2 separate regions of the Homo sapiens genome follow, and region 1 is reported to be linked to region 2. The links are microRNA targets in miRTarBase. Many come from high-throughput screens and were not tested one by one. Region 2 holds a microRNA gene; the other region holds the end of a gene's coding sequence.

Evidence for each region. The annotated mature microRNA hsa-miR-518d-5p reads CUCUAGAGGGAAGCACUUUCUG and lies in region 2 at 3,797-3,818, shown strand. An mRNA with a match to its seed (bases 2 to 7 or 8) in the 3' UTR can be bound and repressed. Matches are read on the target gene's strand: a 7mer-m8 pairs with bases 2 to 8, a 7mer-A1 pairs with bases 2 to 7 and ends in A, and an 8mer does both.
Region 1: the mRNA of TAS2R30 is a reported target of hsa-miR-518d-5p. Seed matches in the 3' UTR shown: 7mer-A1 at 4,516-4,522.

What each region holds. Positions count from the first base shown.
Region 1 is chr12:11,128,646-11,134,030 of GRCh38, forward strand. TAS2R30 (taste 2 receptor member 30) reads right to left here. Exons shown (of 1, transcript NM_001097643.2): 1 at 4,313-5,385. The coding sequence ends at 4,640. The region is part of intron 1 of PRH1-TAS2R14 (PRH1-TAS2R14 readthrough); the gene reads right to left. The region is part of intron 1 of PRH1-PRR4 (PRH1-PRR4 readthrough); the gene reads right to left. It also overlaps a transcript of PRH1 not described here. Among named protein-coding and RNA genes, the nearest start is that of TAS2R30, 3.3 kb to the right of the region's middle.
Region 2 is chr19:53,731,096-53,736,480 of GRCh38, forward strand. It overlaps MIR518D (microRNA 518d), which reads left to right and starts at 3,782; the gene lies at 3,782-3,868. It also overlaps the pseudogene RNU6-980P.

The DNA.
Region 1 (5,385 bases), not on the chromosome of region 2:
GCAGCAGGAGAATCATTTGAACCCAGAAGGCAGAGGTTATAGTTAGTCGAGATCACGCCACTGCACTCTAGCCTGAGAGACAGAGCGAGACTCCGTATCAAAATAACAACAAAAAGGAGATGATAATAAAACTTTCATTGGTTAGTTTTGTTAGGAGTTAATATACTATTTCTGTAACTACTTTCAATTTTACCTGTTTGCTATAAGCAGGAACCAAAGATTGTTAATTATTGATTTGATCCTGTTTCTCTTGATATTTGACACCAGTGAGAACTTCCACCTTTTTTTTTGTTCTGAGACAGCATCTCCCTCTGTTACCCAAGCTGGAGTACAGTGGCACAATCATAGCCCACTGCAGCCTGGAACTCCTGGGCTCAAGCAATCCTCCTGCCTCAGCTTCTCAACTATTTGGAACTATAGGCATGTACCACCATGCCAGGTAATTTTTAAAATTTTTTGTAGAGACGGAGTTTCCATATGATGCACAGGGAACTCCTGCTCTCAAGGGATCTTCACACCTTGGCCTCCCAAAGTACTAGGACTACAGGCATGAGCCATCACATCCAGCCCGCAGTGGGAGTTTTGAAGGTCAGATGCTACCTAGAGCTTCGGCTCATGTCCATCCCAAGGTGGATCTAATCAGTTTGTAGTTATTACCTCTTCCTGAATTGAAATGGATACGTATGGCAGCTGGCAGGACTCTCACATTCTTCGTGAACTGTAGAGTAAGGAACATTATTATAGCAGGACCAAGGGAAAGCCTCTGAAATTCTCCTCTACTGGCAACAAAATATATAAAATATAATAACCGCATTCCCTAAGGAATGGAACTGGTCACTGTCATGACAAAACACCTGAAAGTTACAGGGGATGGTAGTCTTTTCTATAACCCGATTCACTTAACCTATCTGGCCTCTACCAAAACCAGATGGGTTATCGAATGAATGCAGACTACCATAAACTTAAATCAACACTCACAAATGCTTTCCAGGATGTGCTATCTTCACTGAGCAGAGCAGAGCTTCTGGTACTTTTTGTGGGGCTAGTGATTTGGTGAATGGTTCTTAATCTACACCCATTATGAGGGAAAATCAAAACAATTTGCCTTGTAAGAATAATAGCACTGCTTCACTGTTGTATGTCAGGGCTATGTCACTTCTGTTCTCAGTTTAATTTACATTTTTTAAAACATCCTGCCAGTTTAATGTATTGATAATATTACAGACCGGGCCCTGTGGCATATGACTGTAATCCCAACACTTTAGGAGGCCGACACAGGCAGATCACTTGAGCCCAGGAGTTTGAGACCAGCCTGGGTAACACGGTGACATCCCAGCCCTACAAAAAATACCAAAATTAGCCAGGCATGGTGTTGTGCCCCTGCAGTCCCAGCTGCCAGCAATGCCGAAGTGGGAGAATCACTTGTGCCCAGAAGGTTGAGGCTGCAATGAGCTGTGATCCTGCCACTGCATTCCAGCCTCAGGGACAGAAAGAGACCGTGTCTCAAAATAATACCAATAATAATATATTAGTTGGTACAATAATCAGGAAATGGCAAGTTTCTTCAGTATAGTAAAATATTATAACATTGAGCAGAAGTAAAATACCAGAAGAAAATAGATAAATCAGAGAAGATTCAGGGACCGACAACATAGGTGATGTTTTAAGGTTTTTAGTGTCCCTAGTCCACATGCTGAGACAATCTTTTTTACAGTAAACGGCATTTTGCTCTCTCTATATATTTCCTATCACTACAAAAGAGACACTATGTTTTGGGGGCCTACTGGGATTTTGGAGACAACATATTCCACATTTGAGAATATTGCTCTGACTCACGAACGATGTTTCTAAAGGCTACTGGTCTCAAATGGAGCCCAGAACTAAAGAGGGCTCTACAGAAGATATAGGCTCTGGTCCAGGCTGCTCTGGCCACTGTGCCAGATGATCCAGCGGAATTCAAAGCTGCTAGAGGCATGCATAGTGGGCATTATAGGACTCTGTGCATGTCTCTGACAAGCCTGTAGGAGAGGGGAGAGCAAATCCCTATGGAATCAGTGTAAGACCAGTGTAAGACCATTCCCTCTTCAGCAGAGGGAATGCTGAAGTATACTCTGTCTGAAAAGCCAAACAGCAAGTGCAGAACATTAATCCAAGCATAGAGTCACTCTAAGCACAAGCCCCTATAAGCACAAAACCCTGTACAACTGTGCAAGTCATATGCTCATAAAGCCAGCCATGACTGGAGGGTATGAGCACGTCTCAGTGGCACAAGGAGTGGTGGTATTGGACACAAACATGTGCTTTCTCAGATTCCCTTCACTATCTCCTGTTCCCCTGGTCAGCACCTTGCCTGATCCAGATCATCCTTCCATTTGGGACTTGAATGCATCACCACACTGTGGGCATGAGGTCTGACTTTCATGACCACCACCAAGGGACTGGATGATGTAAGACAGAACAACAGAGATGGTAGTTCTAACTCAGGGAAACCCTGGCCAAGGGGAAACAGAAGACTAACGACAGCTGAGCAGATACATTCTCCCTCCTCTCTCTCTCTTCCATGGACTAATGCCAGCTGTGGTTTCCCTTTGTAGCCCTTCTGGAAAAGTTCTGGGAGTCAAGTGCATGCATCTGATGACCACCATGCTGTCTCTCTCACCTCACTGTGAAGTGGCTGCCAGCAGTCATACCAGACATCACCACACATTGTTTCACATCGGTTCTTGTCTCAATTTCCACATGTCCCTGCCATTTTTGTCTTGAATTGGCCTTCCATATAAATGTCATCACTTTAATATCAGGTATTACGTTAAAAACATTTTAGTAAAGTAGCTGGTTACTAACTCAATTTTTTGAAATGAAATGCCATTTTTATATGATAATCAACTAGAAAATATCATAATACAAATATATAATTCACAATAGAAAAAAATACATACGCAAATAGACCAAAGTCTTTTATATGCTTTTTTAAAATATTGTAATAGTGGCATCTAATTTTGATGTTCTACCTTGTCGCCAATTCAGACACCTGATACAGCTGCATCAAGACTATATTATTGTGATATTTCCCCTAAAATTGTGGAATAGCCAAACTTTTCCTCTGAGGAAGGATTCTGCTTGGATAAGCCTGTAATCTTAACCTGAGACCAGAACAGGGGAACTCATGCAACTGCAGATTTTGTGATGAGTTTCCCTTTCATTGGTTTACCACATCAGCTTACCCATTTTATCCACCCATTTATTTGTTCATTAAAATATCATTTTTGACCATCTATTCCTTGTGCTGGGTTCTAGGTCCTGGGAGTCAACAGAAAGCCTGACAGACACGATCTCTTCTTTTATGGTTCTTACATTGTACTGAGGAAGATACATGATTCTAAAAAATACATGAATCAGGTGTGGGGATGATTTATCTTAAGGTCTGAACAACATTGTTAAAATTTCATAACACCAAGAATTAATACAGTCATGTAGAATTTAGCTGTAAACAAGACTGTACATTTCCTTCTTATAATAGAACTTCCCATTAATGAATATGTCAAGACAATTCCATTTAATCATTGACAACAAAATTACACTAGGACAAATCCCATAATTAATACATAGATTTCATAGATACTATTTTAACACTTAAAAAAAGTTTCACTGAATTATTTTCCATAATTTTTATACTATTTTCACATTGACAGATTTTTTTTTAGAAAACGGAAGACTGGAGTTCTCTTATCTGAAGTTTAGAAAGAATTTTAAAAATGGAAGATAAGGATATAATTAGCAATTCAGGGGCTTAGAAGTGCTTTAGAAAAAATACTAAAATAATTTACATCTGAGCTCAATTTCAAAAAAAGTTTTTCTTTAATTGAAAAGCTGGAAGAAATGACTGTTCTAACTGCATATGGAAGCTGATAATAGCAATCAAGATCATGATCATGATTTTTCATCCCTCTTATAGCAGAGATTTTTTTCTAAGCTATTCACATACTTGTATTAAATCTAATATTCCTCAGTACTGTTTATGGTACACATACATGAAATTTACTATACGTATACTTCTCACTCAAATTTTATTGTGTTCATTGTTTTGTAACAATAATTCTGATTGCTTTTTACTAAACATAAAATAGGAATTCATAATGGAATAAAACCCTGAAGATACATCCTCATTAGTGATTAAGAATTGAACGACCTTATTATCAAAAAGTTATAGGTTAAAACAACAGATTGTAAGCACACTGTGGTATATTTGTGTCATTCAAATAACAATAGAAAAGAGCAATATTTTTCCTGAGATAAGCTGTTAGTTCTTAATAATTATAAATAGATATAAATTCTACAAATGAAATATAAAATACATGTATGAAATAAACATGGCTTCATAATTGAGGAATTTTTGTCATATTTTCTATAATTTGGCAGTTTTTGTGAAAAAACAATAAAAAGCATGTTATTGTCAATGTTCTTCAGTTTTTCATACACACACACACACACACACACATCTATATATATGTACTTTTCTAGACTAACTTTAGGTAAAAGACTTTTCTAGGTATACATGTGGAAATTATTCATATACATATATTACAGAAAACCCAGTAAGAAATATAAAATGTTTCATACACCACCAGTTTGTTTTCTGCTAGAAGACACACAATGCCCCTCTTGTGAATCTATGGAGACGAAGGCTTCTGTCTTTCACCCAGTACCTCACATGCCGCAAAACTGAAAGAAAAATCTGCTTTAGCTTCTTGTTTCCCAAAATCAGGATGAATGGGTGGGTTGAAGGATAGCTGAATATAATAGCTTGGCAGAACATGAAGACAGGTTGCTTTTCCAGCCTCCCAAAATTACAAACTGATATGATCATGGACAGAAAGTAAATGGCACATAACAGAAGAAAGGAGGTCACAGTTTGCAAAGCTTTTATGTGGACCTTGGTGCTGGGATCTTGAGATCCTTTGCCATGGAGCTGCATCTTCTTGAGATGTTTACACAGAGAACAGATTAACAGCAGAAAAGATATCAGGGTCAGAGTGAGGGGTACAAAGTTTGCTAGCATGGTTAGAGTCATATTTGAATGGTACATTGCACTCCTCAATTTGATCTTCCAAGTCACGTTTCCTTCATATTCTTTTGTCCATACAGTCTCATCCATGTTTATCACAAAAAGATGACAAACCAAAAATAGCAAAGGCCCCAACAGTATCACCAGAACAACACTCTTAACTCTCCTCTTTATGCGAAGAAAAATAAGGTTGGAGAAATTGGCAATCCTGAGCAAATAAAACATGCTGAGGCTAGTAGCAAGCCAGCTGCTGAAATGGTTGGTTACTGCCCAGACATTATAAGCAGTAATTCTTACTTCTACACTATAAAAAGCTGGAT
Region 2 (5,385 bases):
AACACTGAAGCTGATGCCGATCGTGGTAATACATTTGCAGAGCATGCTTATCATCAGGCTTGGACAATGCCGGGGTTCTGTTTTCGGTTTTGCTTTTTTATTCTAAGACAGGATCTCTGTTGCCCAGGCTGGAGTGCAGTGACATGTCCAACCCAGGTCTCTTGAATTCAAATGGTCCTTTTTAGGGGGCAGAGTCTTTCTCTGTCACCCAGGCTGATATGCAGTGAGGCGATCTCGGCTCACTGCAACCTCTGCCTCCCAGGTTCAAGCAATTCTCCTGCCTCGGCTTCCCAAGCAGCTGAGATTACAGGCGTTCATCACCATACCTGGATGATATTTGTATTTTTTAAAATTTATTTATTTATTTATTTTTGAGACGGAGTCTCGCTGTCACCCAGTCTGGAGGGCAGTGGCACAATCTCGGCTCACTGCAACCTCTGCCTCCCCGGTTCAAGCAATTCTTCTGCCTCAGCCTCCTGAGTAGCTGGAATTACAGAAGCACACCACCGCACCTAGTTACTTTTTGTATATTTTTTTTAAGTAGAGACTGGATTTCACCGTGTTGGCTAGGCTGGTCTCAAATTCCTGACCTCAAGTGATCCACCCACCTCTGACTCCCAAATTTCTGGGATCACAGGTATGCGCCCCCATGCCTGGCCTAATTTTTGTATTTTTAGCAGAGACGTGGTTTCACCATGTTGGCCAGGCTGAACTCAGCTCCTGACCTTAGGTGATCTGCCCGCCTGGGCCTCCCAAAGTGCTGAGAATACAGGCGTGAGCCACCGTGCCTGGCCATTAACACCTTTTGGTCCACGGAAATTATTCTGGCACTGGTTTATAGAACCTCGCTTGGGGTCAGGTAGAGTTGAAGGGGACCCCAATGTCCTTGCAGGTGGGATGTGCACTGCTTAGCAAGAACACGGAGGTGGAATGCATGGGGTTTGAGTTTTTATTGGAGAAATAAAGCCAAAATCTTGGGTGCATGACCAGGTCGTATATGCAACAATACGGGCGTCTCACTATGCCGCCCAGGCTAATGTGGGCTTAGATCCTCCTGCCTCTGCCCCTCCCCAGTCCTTAGTAGCTGGGACTACATGTGAATATTAACTCACGTACAGGAAGAGGAAAGTAAGGACTGTTCTTTGATTCACGTCCCACCCCCAGTTAAATTTGTATTTTAGATAAACAATGTATTTGAGATGTACTTGAACAACAAATGATTTGCTGTTTAGATGTGAGCATCTTTTTTTGCTCCTGATTTTAAACATAGGACAAGGTCAGGTATGGTGGCTCACGCCTGTAATTCCATCATTTTGGTAGGCAGAGACAGGAGGATCACCTGAGGTCAGCTGCTTGAGACCAGCCTGGCCAACATGGTGAAACCCCATCTGTACTAAAAATACAAAAATTAGCCATGCGTGGTTGTGCTGCACGCCTGTAATCCCAGCTACTCAGGAGGATGAGGCAGGAGAATCGCTTGAAGCCGGGAGGCAGAGGTTGCAGTGAGCTGAGATCGCGCCAGTGAACTACAGCCTGGGCAAAAGAATAAGATTCAATCTCAAAAAAATAAAAAATAGGCCAGGCACGGTGGCACACACCTGTAATGCTAGCACTTTTGGAGGTCGAGACGGGGGCATCACCTCAGGTCAGGAGTTGAAGACCAGCTGCGGCATCACGGCAAAGCCTCATCTCTACGAAAAATACAAAAATTAGCCAGGTGCAGTGGCAGGTGCCTGTAATACCAGCTACTCGGGAGACCAAGGCAGGAGAATCGTTCCAACTGGGCGGCAGAGGTTGCAGTGAGCCAAGATCGTGCCACTGCACTGCAGCCTGTCGACAGAGTAAGACTTGGTCTAAAAAAAAAAAATAAATAAATAAATAAAAGATAAATATGGAACCATCATGAATTTGGGTGTCACCTCTGTGTGGGGGCCAGGGTAATCTCTGTCAATCCAATTTTTTTTTATGTGCACCAGCAAAGCAAGCACTTATGTTTAGGTATTATTCTTCCTGTGAGCATACAATATGTAGATCTTTATTTTCTTTGAGACATGGTCTCAAAAATGTATGATGTGGCTGGGCACAGTGGCTCAAGCCTGTAATCCCAGCACTTTGGGAGGCTGAGGCGTGTGGATCACCCGAGGTCAGGAGTTCAAGACCAGCCTGGCCAACATGGTGAAAATCCGTCTCTACGATAAATACATATATATATATATGTATATATGCCGGGCATGGTGGCAGGTACGGGTAATCCCAGCTACTTGGGAGCCTGAGGCAGGAGAATCGCTTGAACCTGGGAGGTAGAGGTTACTCATATCACTATGAGATTGTTTTTTGTTCTTGTGTGTGTGGTTTTTGTTTGTTTTTGAGACAAGGTCTGGCTCTGTCACCCAGGCAAAAGTGTAGTAGTGCGATCTCGGCTTACTGTAACCTCCATCTCCCACCTATGCGTCCTGAATTAGTGTGTCTACAGGCATGCACCACCACAGTGGGCTACCTTTTTTTTTTGAGAGGGAATTTTGCTCTTGTTGCACAGGCTGGAGTACAATGGCAAGATTTCAGATCACTGCAACCTCCGCCTTCCGGGTTCATGTGATTCTCCTGCCTCAGCCTCCCAAGTAGCTGCGATTACAGGCATGCACCATCACACTTGGCTAATTTTGTATTTTGAGTAGATACAGGTTTCCCCATGCTTGTCAGGCTGGTCTCCAACTCCTGACCTCTAGTGATCCACCTGCCTCGGACTCCCAAATTGCTGGGATTACAGGCATGAGCTACCACACCCAGCCACCTGGCTAACTTTTGTAGTTTTTCTACAGACTACAAAATGGTTTCACCATTTTACCTGAGACTACAAAATGGTTTCACCATTTTACCTGAGACTACAAAATGGTTTCACCATTTTACCTGAGCTGGTCTCCAACACCTGAGCTAAAGTGATCCTCCTGCCTCGGCCTCATAAAATGTTGGGATTAGAGGTGTGAGCCACCGTGCCTCACCCGTACTTGTGTATTTCTTTATTTTTATTGATTTATTTATTTTGAGACAGAGTTTCACTCTTGTTGCCCAAGCTGGAGTGCAATGGCACAATCTCGGCTCAATGCAACCTCCTTCTCTTAGGTTCAAGCGATTCTCCTGCCTCAGCTTCCCGGGTAGCTGGGATTAAAGGCGTCCACCACCACACCCAGCTAATTTTTGTGTTTTTAGTAGAGACAGGGTTTCAGCATGTTGGCCAGACTGGTCTCAAACTCCTAACCTCAGGTAATCCACCTGCCTCAGCCTTCCAAACTGCTGGGATTACAGGCATGAGCCACTGCGCCTAGCCTCAAGTGGTCCTCTTAAGTCAGCCTAAACTGTGGTCTATCCTGGAGGATGCTTGTGTGTGTGACAATTTATATTCTTCAACGTCTTAGATTCTATTTTGGAGGCTCCCAAGGGGATTGTGTGTCCCTGTGCTGGAACTCAAGTGAACACTTGGCTGTACATCCATTGCTGTTCTCTAGAAATTCAGCCCAATTCTCTTGGTTAAAGATAAGGTATGTGTAGTAGGCATTGCTTTTTCTTTCCAGAGACAAAACTCAGGAGGATTGCCCCTTGATGAGCAAGGCTAACCTGCTGATTCTTTGAAGCAAAGAACCAGAGATGGTCCTTTTAGGGGTTTATGTTCTGGATTCCAGAAAACAGGCAAACAGGACCAATAAATATATTTTTATTTTTCTATCCACTTTAACCTGGTCAAGGAAAATTCCAACAAGAAACCCAGAGTGCTGGAGTGAGAAGATCCCATGCTGTGACCCTCTAGAGGGAAGCACTTTCTGTTGTCTGAAAGAAACCAAAGCGCTTCCCTTTGGAGCGTTACGGTTTGAGAAACTCAATGTTGAAGTTGATGCTGACTTCAGTAATACATTTGTAGAGGATGCTTATCATCAGACTTGGATGATATCGGGGTTCTGTGCTTTTTTTTTTTTTTTTCTCCTAAGACAAAATCTGTATTTTCCAGGCTGGAGTCCATAAGCACTTCCAACCTAGGTCTCTTGCGCTCAGATAGTCCTCTTTTTTGGGACAGAGTCTTGCTCTGTGACCCAGGCTGGAGTGCAGTGGCGTGATCTCGGCTCACTGCAACCTCTGTCTCCTGGGCTCAAGCAATTCTCCTTCCTGAGCTTCCTGAGGAGCTGGGATTACAGGCGCCTGACATCATCCTTGGCTAACATTTGTATTTTTCTTTTTTATTCATGTATTTATTTACTTTTCAGATGGAGTCTCGCTGTCGACCAGGCTAGAGGGCAGTGGCACGATCCCGGCTGACTACAACCTGTACCTCTCAGGTTCAAGCAATTCTCCTGCCTCAGCCTCTGGAGTAGCTGGAATTACAGGAACACACCACCAGGCCCGGCTACTTTTTGTATTATTATTATTATTATTATTTTTTTTTTTTTTCACTAAAGAGGGGGTTTCACCATGTTGTCCAGAGAATACAAGCATGAGCCACTGCGCAGCCATCAACACCTTTTACTGCATGGAAATTATTCTGGCACTGGTATAGAACCTCACATGGGGTCAGGTGGAGTTGAGGGGACCTCAGTGTCCCTGCAGATGGGATGAGCAAGAGCACGGAGGTGGAGTGCATGGGGCTTCAGTGTTTATTGGGGAAATGAAGCTGAAATCTTGGGTGCATGACCAGGAAATAAATGCATGAGACAGGGGTCTCACTGTGCCGCCCTGGCTAAAGTGGTCTTAGATCCTCCTGCCTCTGCCCCTCCCCAGTCCTAGGTAGATGGGACTACATGTGAATATTAACCCATGCACAGACAAGAAGAAAGTAAGGACTGTTATTTTGTTCGTACCCAGCCCCCAGTTAAATTTATCATATATATAATATATCATATATATAACATAATCATATACACACAAAATGCTGATTTGAATACAGAGAATACTCTGATATCACTTTGGGTATTTTTTGGTTTGTTTCTGTGTGTGTGTGTTTTATTTGTTTGGTTGGTTATTTTTGAGACAAGGTCTGGCTCTATCACCCAGGCTGGAGTGTAGTGGTGCGTTCTCAGCTCACTGCAACCTCCGCCTTCCACCTAAGCCTGCTGCATTAGTGTCTACAGGCATGCACCACCACACCCGGCTCACTTTTGTATTTTTTGTACACATGGGGTTACACCATGTTGCCGGGGCTGGTCTCGAACTCCTGACCTCAGGTGATTCTCCCGTCTTGGCCTCCTAAAGTGCTAGAATTAGAGGTGTGAGCCACCGTGCCCCACCTGTACTTGTGTATTTATGTTAAAATTGTGTTAAGGAGTTTTTATGACCAAGCCTGTGATCTATTCTGGAGAATATTTGTGCGTATGACAATGTATATTCTTCAACATCGTAGAT